2 separate regions of the Homo sapiens genome follow, and region 2 is linked to region 1. The links come from fine-mapping of genetic effects on gene expression. A gene starts in region 1. The other region holds a variant in brackets. All regions are shown on one strand. Distances are between the middles of the regions.

Region 1 (5,371 bases):
TGACTGAGTCTTTTATGGAAAGGACCCCTCCTCTGTGCCCAGTGCCCTCACTGCCATCATTTCATGCTACTGAGAACAAAGTGTGGATCAAATCCTTCCCAAGAGTCTCCTGATCTCAACAGACTGAGCCCCAAGATCTGGGGAAGGAGAGCGATGGTTCTAGGCGCACCTGGAAACTGCCCTGCACTCCTGGGTCCCGAGGTTTCTGTGGGGCGGCTGTCAAGGGGGCTGCTCTCTCTCTCTTTCTCAGGCTGCAGGTGCACTAGGCCGTCCACTCTCTCTCTCTCTCAGGCTGCAGGTGCACCAGGCCGTCCACTCACTCTCTCTCTCGGGCTGCAGGTACACCAGGCCGTCCACTCTCTCTCTCTCTCTCTCTCTCGGGCTGCAGGTGCACCAGGCCGTCCACTCTCTCTCTCTCTCTCAGGCTGTAGGTGCACCAGGCCGTCCACTCTCTCTCTTTCTCGGGCTGCAGGTGCACCAGGCCGTCCACTCTCTCTCTTTCTCGGGCTGCAGGTGCACCAGGCCGTCCAGGGAGCCCGGGCCTGCCGGGTATGCCAGGCCGCAGCGTCAGCATCGGCTACCTCCTGGTGAAGCACAGCCAGACGGACCAGGAGCCCATGTGCCCAGTGGGCATGAACAAACTCTGGAGTGGATACAGCCTGCTGTACTTCGAGGGCCAGGAGAAGGCGCACAACCAGGACCTGGGTAGGTACCTCCCACCCGGCCCCCGTTGCCTGCTCAGGGCTGGCCCGGAAGTGGCCAAGATCAAAGGGCCACAGCGAGACTCCCAAACCCTCCACGGCTGGTAAGTTCCCCTGACGGAAGGGTCCATCTACATTCCTCGAGTGCAGAAAGATTAAAACGGCCTTTGAAGCAGAAGCCTTACAAAGCCCTTAAACCTCAGGACCTTAACACAGGGACCTGCCTTTTAACCTGGTATTGACTTCCGCAGGCTCCCATGTGACCCGTCTGACCCCCGACCCCTCTCCAGTGGAGACCACCAATTACTTCACCTCCTTCTTGTTTTTGACCCAAGTTCTGTAGACTTGGAGTCAGGCAGGGGCCATGAGGGGCTGGGGTTCATGTAAGACTCTCCCATACAGCCCCCCGAGGAAAATGGACCCATGGACACGTGTGCATGCTCTTATTTAAGGAAGCCTTTGAAAGGCATTAACGCGACTTCGAATACAGAAAATGCAATACACACAAATTACAAGTGGAGGTAGCTTAGTCTGAGGTCCTCTTTGAGGGGGTGACGGGAAGGGTCTCTGGGATACTGGCTGTGTTCTGCCTCCTCGGTGCAGGTTACATCAGGCGTTCTGCCCCCGGGAAGCATGTTGCTGGCTCATGGTGCCTTCACATTCCTGCCTGTGCGCCCCGCCTCCACAATGAGTTTCTAAAGAACAACGGGGCAAAGGCCGCCAAGGATAAGGGCCAAAAATAGATCTAGGAACAGGGCCAAGGAGGCAGCCTAGCACCGGGCATGTTTGCTAAAGGTGGCTGCACTTCTGGGTCTGAGCTTTTCAGCAATCCATGTGAAGAGGGAAACCTGCTTAGCTGCAGCATTCGTTGTGGCCAGGAGATAAAGGCTATCTTAGTCTCCAGAAGCAATAAAGCTACATGGAAGGGAGAAGGGCCAGGACTCCTTCTGGGGTGGCTCCTTGGGGTCAAAGAGCGACCCCTTGGAGGCCATCAGAGTTTTCTTGGGGCCAGTGCTGTTAAGACCCCACTAAGGTAAGGCTCACCCAAAATGCTATTCCATGAAGACGCCACTCCCTGGTGATCCAACTTGGCCCAGTATGTGTGAGAACTTGTAGAAGAACAGAGCTGTTCCAAAATGCCAGTGGAGTCTGATCAAAAAGAGAAAAAGAAAGAAATTGGGAAGCCTTAGCCTGGCCCTCCAGTAGGTGGCTAAACTCCACCAGGTGCCCTGGGGCGAGTCCGTGACACACAGCCTCCTGGGCCTGGCTGGGGCTGGCAGGTGCGTCTTCTAGCCACACTGCACTGTGATCTCATGACCCCTCCTTCCACAGGGCTGGCGGGCTCCTGCCTGGCGCGGTTCAGCACCATGCCCTTCCTGTACTGCAACCCTGGTGATGTCTGCTACTATGCCAGCCGGAACGACAAGTCCTACTGGCTCTCTACCACTGCGCCGCTGCCCATGATGCCCGTGGCCGAGGACGAGATCAAGCCCTACATCAGCCGCTGTTCTGTGTGTGAGGCCCCGGCCATCGCCATCGCGGTCCACAGTCAGGATGTCTCCATCCCACACTGCCCAGCTGGGTGGCGGAGTTTGTGGATCGGATATTCCTTCCTCATGGTATGTGGTATTTGCCCAGTTCCCCTCCCCAACCACACCCTGCTGGGGACACAGCAAGAACAGCTGCCTTTGTGAGAAGAATCAGACACGGCAGTCCAGGGTGTGCACTGCACAAGGGTAGTTGGCCCAGGAAGCGAGCGAGAGCTGGAACACAGCTTACACTTGGCTAACTGAGCCACATGCTGGGCACAGGGCTTCCTCCACCCAGAAAGGGCTCATTAATTTGCCACCAGGCCTTTGTAAGGAGTGTAACCAGGACGAACTTGCCTGTTATCCGTCTTACTAGGTACAACACCAACACCAAAGGTGCAGCTGCTTTGGGTTTACCAGAAGTCTAAATATATGGGAGACTTTTCTCTAGAATCCTGATCTTATTTAGAATCTATCTGGAACCTAGAATACCCTGAAGAAATACCTATTAACTGGCTGGCTTAAAATGGATATATATTCGTGAGGAAAATTCTGGAATACCTTTGGGTATAAAATAGAGAGCCTGTGGATACTTTGAAAGCCAGGAGAAGGTGCACAACCAGGACCTGGGAAGGCACCGCCCACCCTTCCGGATCGCCTTTGGGTATAAAATAGAGAACCCTCAGCTTTGGCCAGATTAGGTTTAGCTTAACCTCCAGGGGAGAGACCACAGCACCATAGTGTCTCTTGCAATATTGCCTATTAAAGCAGAGGCTCCTCAACTTGGAATAGGGTCCCGTCCCGATAAATTCATTGTAAGATGAAGATACTATAAGTTGAAAGTGCGTTTTCAATTTATGATGGGTTTATCTGGATGTAACCCCACCAAAAATCAAATAGTGAATTGAATACATATTGCTTTTGCACCATCGAAAACTCAAAAATCCTAAGTCTAACCATGGTAAATCAGGGACCATCTGTATACTATTGTAGGGAGAAAAGAAAGTCTCACTGAGGACAGTGGGTCTTCCAGTGAGTTTATTTATATGCATTATAACTGTCATAACTCCAGCTATATGGATTGGATGCCCAGCATGTTAAATATTTCATAAATTATATATATATATATATATATATATACACACACACACACACACACACACACAACATAAAATATAAATTACATAGTGATTGCTAATCTTTCAAAACAACAGGAAAAAAAATCCGGATTCTAGGAAAGGAAGGAAAAGATAAACAAGTATTGGCATTTTAATAGGTATCGTTGCTATGATAAGTTGGAGCAACAGGATGCTAAATCCTGGGCAGGGACAGGCACAATTTCTACCTTTCCAGAAGCTTATCATGGAAGGTGACTTTGGAGCAACCTTCTTTTGTTTCACAGTGACCTTCAGGGTGCCCCTGTGTCAGGAAGTAAGCTTTGGTTGCTCCTGTTTTTTTCACTCCCGTTGTTAAATTCAAAATAAATGAGCCTCTCCCTTGTGAAGGGCATGATTACACAGTATCCAGAAAGGTCAGGCATCCCCTGTTCCATTAGCATCAGGTTTCAAATGACTGTCACGAGATAAGCAGACATTATCCTCTGCACACGTAACTCTCTGCTTACATAAATGGCTGACAGCCCCAGCAAGCCTGGAACTTGACATCCCCAAAAGGCATGGGTTGAGACGGCTCCTGGGTCAGGACAGATGGGCCAGAAGTACCTTGACTTCTGAGAACAGAAAGTCCCCATTGTCCCTGACAATGGATAAGTGAGCAGACACATCTGTGTACTGGAGATGTGCCCCCTCCAGATGTGCCCTGACTGCCGTCTAGGAGGCAGGACCTAAACCAAGACAGCTGTGTGCCTCGTCTGCACTTTAAATACTCTTTGATCCCTTCTGTGTGGTGACAAGCATATGGTACCACTAGGGCTGCTGGCATCTCAGCATAATAAGAGCTGACTTTGGAGAGGAGAGGACAGCTTGGCTGAGAGCAACTGCCCCACCGTCCCCAGTGGGTACGCAGAAGGCGAGAGCAGTGCTGAGGCTAGCGCCTGGCTCACCCTTCTTTTGTCCGTGAGGATGGGTGGCCCCAGAGGATGCATTTTCTGCATTCCCTACAAGCGAGCGCCACGTGGGAGGGAGGACAAGGGCAGAGCCCCGGATGCAGACTGCAGCAGCAAAAGTCATTTTCCTCCCCTCCCCTCGGTGGCCTCTCTCAAAGCTGCTCTGGCAGAGGCTACAAGTATCTAGCCAGCCGTTATTTTAGTTCCTCTTTTTTCAATTCTGGCTACTATCTGGAGCCCTCACAGCCCCTTCTCCAGGTCAGCCTCTCGTCCAGGCAATTCTCTTAAGATACATGAGCTGCTATGAGTACCAAGCCAGAGGTTTGTCCACTGAGAGAAGCACATTGGAAAGGGTGCGTGTGCCTGGACTGTGTGCACTTATGCACGTGTGTGCATAGGGGTGTGTACACAAGCATGCACTGTGTGTGTGTGTGTGTACATGCGTGCATTTGTGTGTGTGCATGAGTGTACACCATGTGTGTGCATGTGTGCATGTATGCATGTGTGTGTGCGCAGCAAACTCAGCTCTTACCTGGCTGGTGCCAGCCTCTAAGACTTCTCACATTGTGCTCCCTTCTGACCTCGTTCTGGGAGTCCCAGGTGTCTCCTTTGGGCAGCTCCCAGCATGGCCTCAGCTCCTTCAGACCAAAGTGAAGCCGGAGGTGCCCTGGAGGACGTCTCCACTTCTTATTACCTGCTCATTAGCAGACAAGAGCAGGCAGCTCAGGGCTGGACAGGCTTCTGCCTTATGTGAGCAGAACACTTTTTAAAGGTTTTTGGGTTTTTTTTTGTATTTAAAGGAAAGCTTAAACTGGGGCCCCTGCCCAAATATATCATAGAACAGCCCCTTTTTTCCCTGCAAACTGAACTGAGATATTTCTATTCTAAGTAAACAGATTCCAAAGCCCACTTACCACTCAAAGCCTGCTCAGCCAAGCCAAATGGCCCTTATACACCAACTCTGGGATCCAGGAGGCCTGCCGTGCGCTTCCATAAAGGCTAAACATGTTGATGCAACAGAAAGTAGAACTTTAAAATGAAAAAAAAAAAAAGGCTTCCTTGAAGACCTCAGCCAT
Region 2 (5,371 bases), 150 kb before region 1:
TTGTTCGTTTGTTTTGTACAGACAGGGTTTTGCTTTGTTACCCAGGCTGGTCTTGAACCCCTGAGCTCAAGCGATCTGCCTGCCTGGGTCTCCCAAAGTGCTGGGATTACAGGCATGAGCCCCCGCACCCAGCCTTCTCTCCTGCTTCTTTGCTGCCTGTGGCTTTCTCTACCCTGCTCCTCCCTTGCCGGCGTGGGTTTTGTCCCTAAGAACTGGTGCAAGAATGACCGGTCCTTCATCTCTTCCTTGCAGCTCAGAGACTTTCAAGTCTACCTTGCTTCTTAGGTTTATGCTGCTTTGGACACTTATTTCCTAAAATGTATAATTCACATTTATTTTTCAGAACTATTCCTTTTGGTTCCACAACACTAAAGATGTCAAGAGCTTACAATAATCAGACTTAGCACCCCTTCCCTTTGTCCACAGTGCCTCTGCCAGCTTCTTTAATTCCTCTGCCTTTCTTGAAGGAGCAGATAAGTCCAATGGGGTCTGGCCTCCAGGTTGGTGTGTGATGAGATAGTTGGCAAGGTAGGACTGCCTGCAGGTCCTCAGTAAATGTTCATTCATTTGCTGAGGGAAGTAATGATTCATCCCCCTAGGCAAACTCCTTCCATGATTTGGAATTTAGGTCTGAAGTTTCCTGGCCAATGCGCCTGGGAAGCCACTGAGCTGGCTGTCAGCTGAGTAGGGACTAAGGATGTTCAACTGTGGGTACTGAAAAGCGGCACTAGATTGAAATGGAGTCCTGAGCTGCAAGTTGGGGAGCACAGCAGTGTTGGAGCATCCTGAAAGTCATAGGAAGAATGGGCTTCGAGTCACTCCAACTCAGGATGTTCCTGATTCCCTGATAATGATCATGATGATGATGATGATGACGATGATGATGGCATGAAGGTGGTGCCCTCCTAGGCCTGGAGGTTAGGGGTAGCCAGTCTGTCTCTGCTTTCTAGCAGTGAGAGCCTCAGGCTGTCAGGCAGGGAGGTTGGCCTTGGGAGGTAGGCATAGAAGGAATAGTGGAGCATAGCAGAGCCCTAGGGCGCAGGCCTGAACACAGCCAGTCCTCTCTGTGAACAGGATAATGCAATACTTAAGGACCCACTGTTCCTAATTTGCTCTCTAACCATCCTCTTCTTCGCAGCTCTTACCAGAATTTAAATTATGTGGGTTTAGTTGTTTGTTTACTTATTTCACCTTCTTGTCTACTTGGTCACCTGCCACAGGGCAGGAGCAATGTCTAATCTGCCCCCTACTCTATACCCAGAGCCCAGCACAGTGCATGGCTCAGAGGAAATTCACATCAGTGATCATGAGTGAATGAATTTGTAAAGTGAAAGCGTGGATGAAGGACCTCCCAGCCCCTTGCCCTTTGTCATGTTAGTTTGGAATTGGGGATGTGAGGTGTCCTCTCACTGGTGCAGTTGAAGGAAGGTGCCGGATACGGTTCAGATTCCTCGGTGGTCCCGAGTTCCCTGGGTGGGGAGGTTCTGTGTGCCTATGAGGAGGTGAGAGTCAGGCATTCTCCAGGGAGTAGGGTGCCCCCACCAGCTTTCACAGGCCTTCTGTAAAACTGGTCCCGCCAGGCCTTGAGTCCTTTCCTGCCTTGGGGTGAAGGACACCCAGACAACCACAGGAGTTTGGCCAGCCGGGCTGAACGGCTACAGCACGCCCCACGAGCCTGGATCACGTTCCACACCTGCAGTAGGAGCTGCAGGAACCTCCTGGCCCTGCGAGCTTCAGTGGGGTCAGCAGCCAGGCACACCTGCAGGGGGCGTCAGTGAGAGCTGGGCATTGGAATTGCCCTACACAGTTGCTGCCTTGGAAATTCAGACTTGAAATGAGAAATTAATGGAGGATTGAATTGATGTTTCTTTCATGAGCCTGTGATTGTTGTAAAAAGAGGTGTGTCAAATGCTTGGTGAGACCCATGCAGGATTCTTTAAAGAACACTGAGGCAAACCAGACCTTATAGGGAAAAACAGGCCTCACGGAGACTGAAGTTAAAATATGGACCAGGGCCAGTGTTTCTTCATGAAGGGGGTGAGCAGAGATTTGAGGAGGCTGCAGGGTGGGAGGAAACTCATCATTTTTATTAAGGAGTTGACAAGAATAGGATCGCGGCTTGTCTTTGATTTGCGTTAAGCAGTAAAATGAAGGGATAGGCTGGAGGGCTGAGAGCAGGGTGGCAGCAGGTGCGTGCAGTCGGTATGCCTCTGCTGGAGGGAGTGGCCAGGCCACAGACATGGGACACCACATAGCAGTCCTCACACTCCTCCTCTGAGGTCCTCAGGGAGGCATTTGTGTCTCGAGACTGTTTCAGAGACCCATGTCTTCTCAGGAGATGCCAA[G/C]GCTCAGGTCAGAGACTTGTTGAGTTTTTAAGAGACTGTCTGAAGCACACACCCTGCCCTAATAAGTCAATATTTCTGTTCCTCCTGGAGACCTCACATTCCAAAGTGTGGTACTTCGGGCTCTTGTAAATGTTGGAATTCCTAAGACTCTCTCTGGAGGACAGGTAAGATGTCAGTGGGAACACACATACACACATGCACGTGCGTGTGTGCACGCACGGCTGGCATGTCCATGGAAACTGCCTTGGCGTGGAATGAGCAGGGCTGCCTCTCAATGAGGTATTCCTTCCCTCACAATATAGCACTGGAGCCATCGGTACATGTAGAAAAGTGTTACTGGGAGGTATCTTAATCAGCCTACAAGTCCTAGTTCCAAAAGTAAGAATGCATCATTCATTTTTGAGTGGGTTATGAATAACTCACTACAACTAAATACAGTGAATATCGTAAACCTAGAATAAGGAGTCTGTTAGATCAATTTGAAACCATTCAAATCATTTCAACCTTTGATTTATATGGAGGGATTTGGCAAGTGGCTTTAAAATCAAAATTAAAAATAGCTTGGGAAACAGCAGATGGAGGATATGAGTTGATGCTTTACCCTATAGACCCAGGAGGCCCGCCTGCCCTTCCCAGACAACTGGCCAATGAATTATTGGGTCAACTGAGGACCTCTGCCAAGCGCCTGTTCATGCCTCCCTCACGTGTAGTAAAAGGCATGAATGCGCCAGCCCATCTAGTCTTGAGCTTTGGTGCTAAACTTTCTGGCTTAGTATGGAGTTGGATTTCTAGAAATCACATATTCAAATCATGGGATTTATGAGCCCCATTGCAGATAAACATTGGAGCCATTGAAAAATTGGCAAATACCTAGGATCGTGTTTTCAGGGCGTGAGAGGATTTTATATATGTTTACTTTTACACCATAAACTCCAGCTGCCTCATTACCTCACTCAAGACAAAAAGATCACTGGAAAGAAATGTAAAAGCTTTCAAGGTACTGTTTTCTCTGAAGGGTTTGGGACTTTCCACTTTTTGGAGTTTTTTTTTTTTATAGTAGTAACTGATGCATCAGATACTATATTAGGTAAAGAATTATAAGAAGAACATAAAAAACGTGAAACTCTCAGATGAGAGTTCTCTAGTAGAAAATTGTTAGCTGAAAGAAAAAAAAAATCACCCATACAAAAGGAACATGGAGTCATTGCTGGAACCCAAGGCCAACTCTTGCCAGGAGGTTTTGGGTCAGAAGCCTGCGTGTCCTGCCCTTCTGCCCTGGACTATCTGGAAGACCCTGCTGGGCGGCAGTGGCAGAGTGGGCCTGGCCATGCCACTTGCACCTCCACGTGGACATGCAGCTGGTGACAGGAAAGGGGAAGGTTCCAGCAGACCCGCTATCACAAAACAACTTACAGAGGGAGTCCCCAAGTGATAGTCCTGTTTAGTCATTGACACGTAACTCAGAAGAGAGTGAAAAGGCTGTGGTAAAATACAATTTGCTTAACATTGGAAAGGGTTCTGTCATCTGGTAAGTTTTACTTGCATGATAAGGTTTCAATCAGTGAACACCAGAAGCCAGCCTTGTCCAGGGTCCCTTAGGTGTAACTGTGTGATAATAGGGAGGCTCCAGGCAGGCTGGCAGAGGCTGGCTGAGGGTGAAAAGCTAGATTAAGATTCACCTGTGAGCCACTGCTCACCTGTTTGTGTGGGGAGGGCTGCAGTAGCTCAACTGTGTGTGGGAGAGGGCTGCACTAGCTCACCTGTGTGTGTGGGGGAGGGCTGCACTAGCTCACCTGTGTGGGGGGAGGGCTGCACTAGCTCACCTGTGTGTGTGGGGGAGGGCTGTACTAGCTCACCTGTGTGTGTGGGGGAGGGCTGCACTAGCTCACCTGTGTGTGTGGGGGAGGGCTGCACTAGCTCACCTGTGTGTGTGGGGGAGGGCTGCACTAGCTCACCTGTGTGTGTGGGGGAGGGCTGTACTAGCTCACCTGTGTGGGGGGAGGGCAGTACCAGCTCACCTGTGTGTGTGGGGGAGGGCTGCACTAGCTCACCTGTGTGTGTGGGGGAGGGCTGCAGTAGCTCACCTGTGTGTGGGGGTGGAGGGCTGTACAGCTCACCTGTGTGAGTGGGGAGGGCTGCACTAGCTCACCTGTGTGTGTGGGGGAGGGCTGCACTAGCTCACCTGTGTGTGGGGGTGGAGGGCTGTACAGCTCACCTGTGTGAGTGGGGAGGGCTGCACTAGCTCACCTGTGTGTGGGGGGGAGGGCTGTACTAGCTCACCTGTGTGGGGGCTGAGGGCTGCACTAGGTCACCTGTATAGGGCGGAGGGCAGCACTGGCTCACCTGTGGAATGAAGGTTGTACTAGCTTACCTGTCAGGGGAGAGGAGGCCTGCGCTGAGACTCGGCTGATCAGAAAGGGGAGAAAAGAGGGTCACTCTGATTGCCATCATCTCAAAACGTTTAATACTGTCACGATTTGAAAGGAAGAGCTAAGGTACTTGTCCAGTAGCCCAATCTCCAAGTCCATCTTTGATCTGAATGTTGAGATCAAGGATGAGAAACACCTTTTTGCCCCATCGGGATTGCCCATCCAGGGAACTCCCTCCATTTCCCACTGACTCACTTAAGGTTGTATCTCCTTCTCTGATGAAACACTCAATGGGGTCACCCACTTGCCTGAATAGGTCCTGAGGAAAGCCTCTTCCCGGCATTCCTCCTCCTTACTGAGCATAAGTGTGTCCCGTAGGGCGAAGGGGAAAGAAAGTGGACTTCCTCTGCCGACACCCCTCAAATGAAGTCGCAAGTGATATCGGTGGTGCAGATGAGGGTTTGGCATCCCGCCAGATGCACCTGCCAGTCCCTCCTCCTCACATGGCCCTCCCTTTGATCACCATGATGGGTGTCCCATGAGGGAGCCACCGTTTGCACCGACACCTCCTCCTCCCCTCCGTGGTGGCCCACTCCTGCCCACCTCTCTGGGTTCCCCGCCAGCATTTTCTCCAGGCACATGCTCCACATGTCCAGG

Which allele goes with the higher level. Alleles are on the strand shown, and positions count from the first base shown. SD is a standard deviation of normalised expression in the study named.
For the expression in thyroid of the gene that starts at base 2,278 in region 1, C is the high allele of the variant in region 2 and G is the other (small effect, 0.26 SD a copy in GTEx).

What was found. PIP is the estimated chance that this variant, and not a neighbour inherited with it, causes the effect.
Region 2: its variant is the best candidate, but not a certain one, in a credible set for the expression of COL4A2-AS1 in thyroid (GTEx, PIP 0.71).

The regions. Positions count from the first base shown.
Region 1 is chr13:110,505,902-110,511,272 of GRCh38, forward strand. It overlaps COL4A2-AS1 (COL4A2 antisense RNA 1), which reads right to left and starts at 2,278. Exons shown (of 3, transcript NR_046583.1): 1 at 2,198-2,278; 2 at 1,746-1,850. COL4A2 (collagen type IV alpha 2 chain) reads left to right here. Exons shown (of 48, transcript NM_001846.4): 46 at 514-705; 47 at 2,034-2,320. RefSeq lists enhancers at 1,699-2,200, 2,201-2,700.
Region 2 is chr13:110,351,241-110,356,611 of GRCh38, forward strand. The region is part of intron 3 of COL4A2 (collagen type IV alpha 2 chain); the gene reads left to right. Among named protein-coding and RNA genes, the nearest start is that of MIR8073, 13 kb to the left of the region's middle. RefSeq lists an enhancer at 1,668-2,180. The variant G/C (reference allele first, on the strand shown) is at 2,346.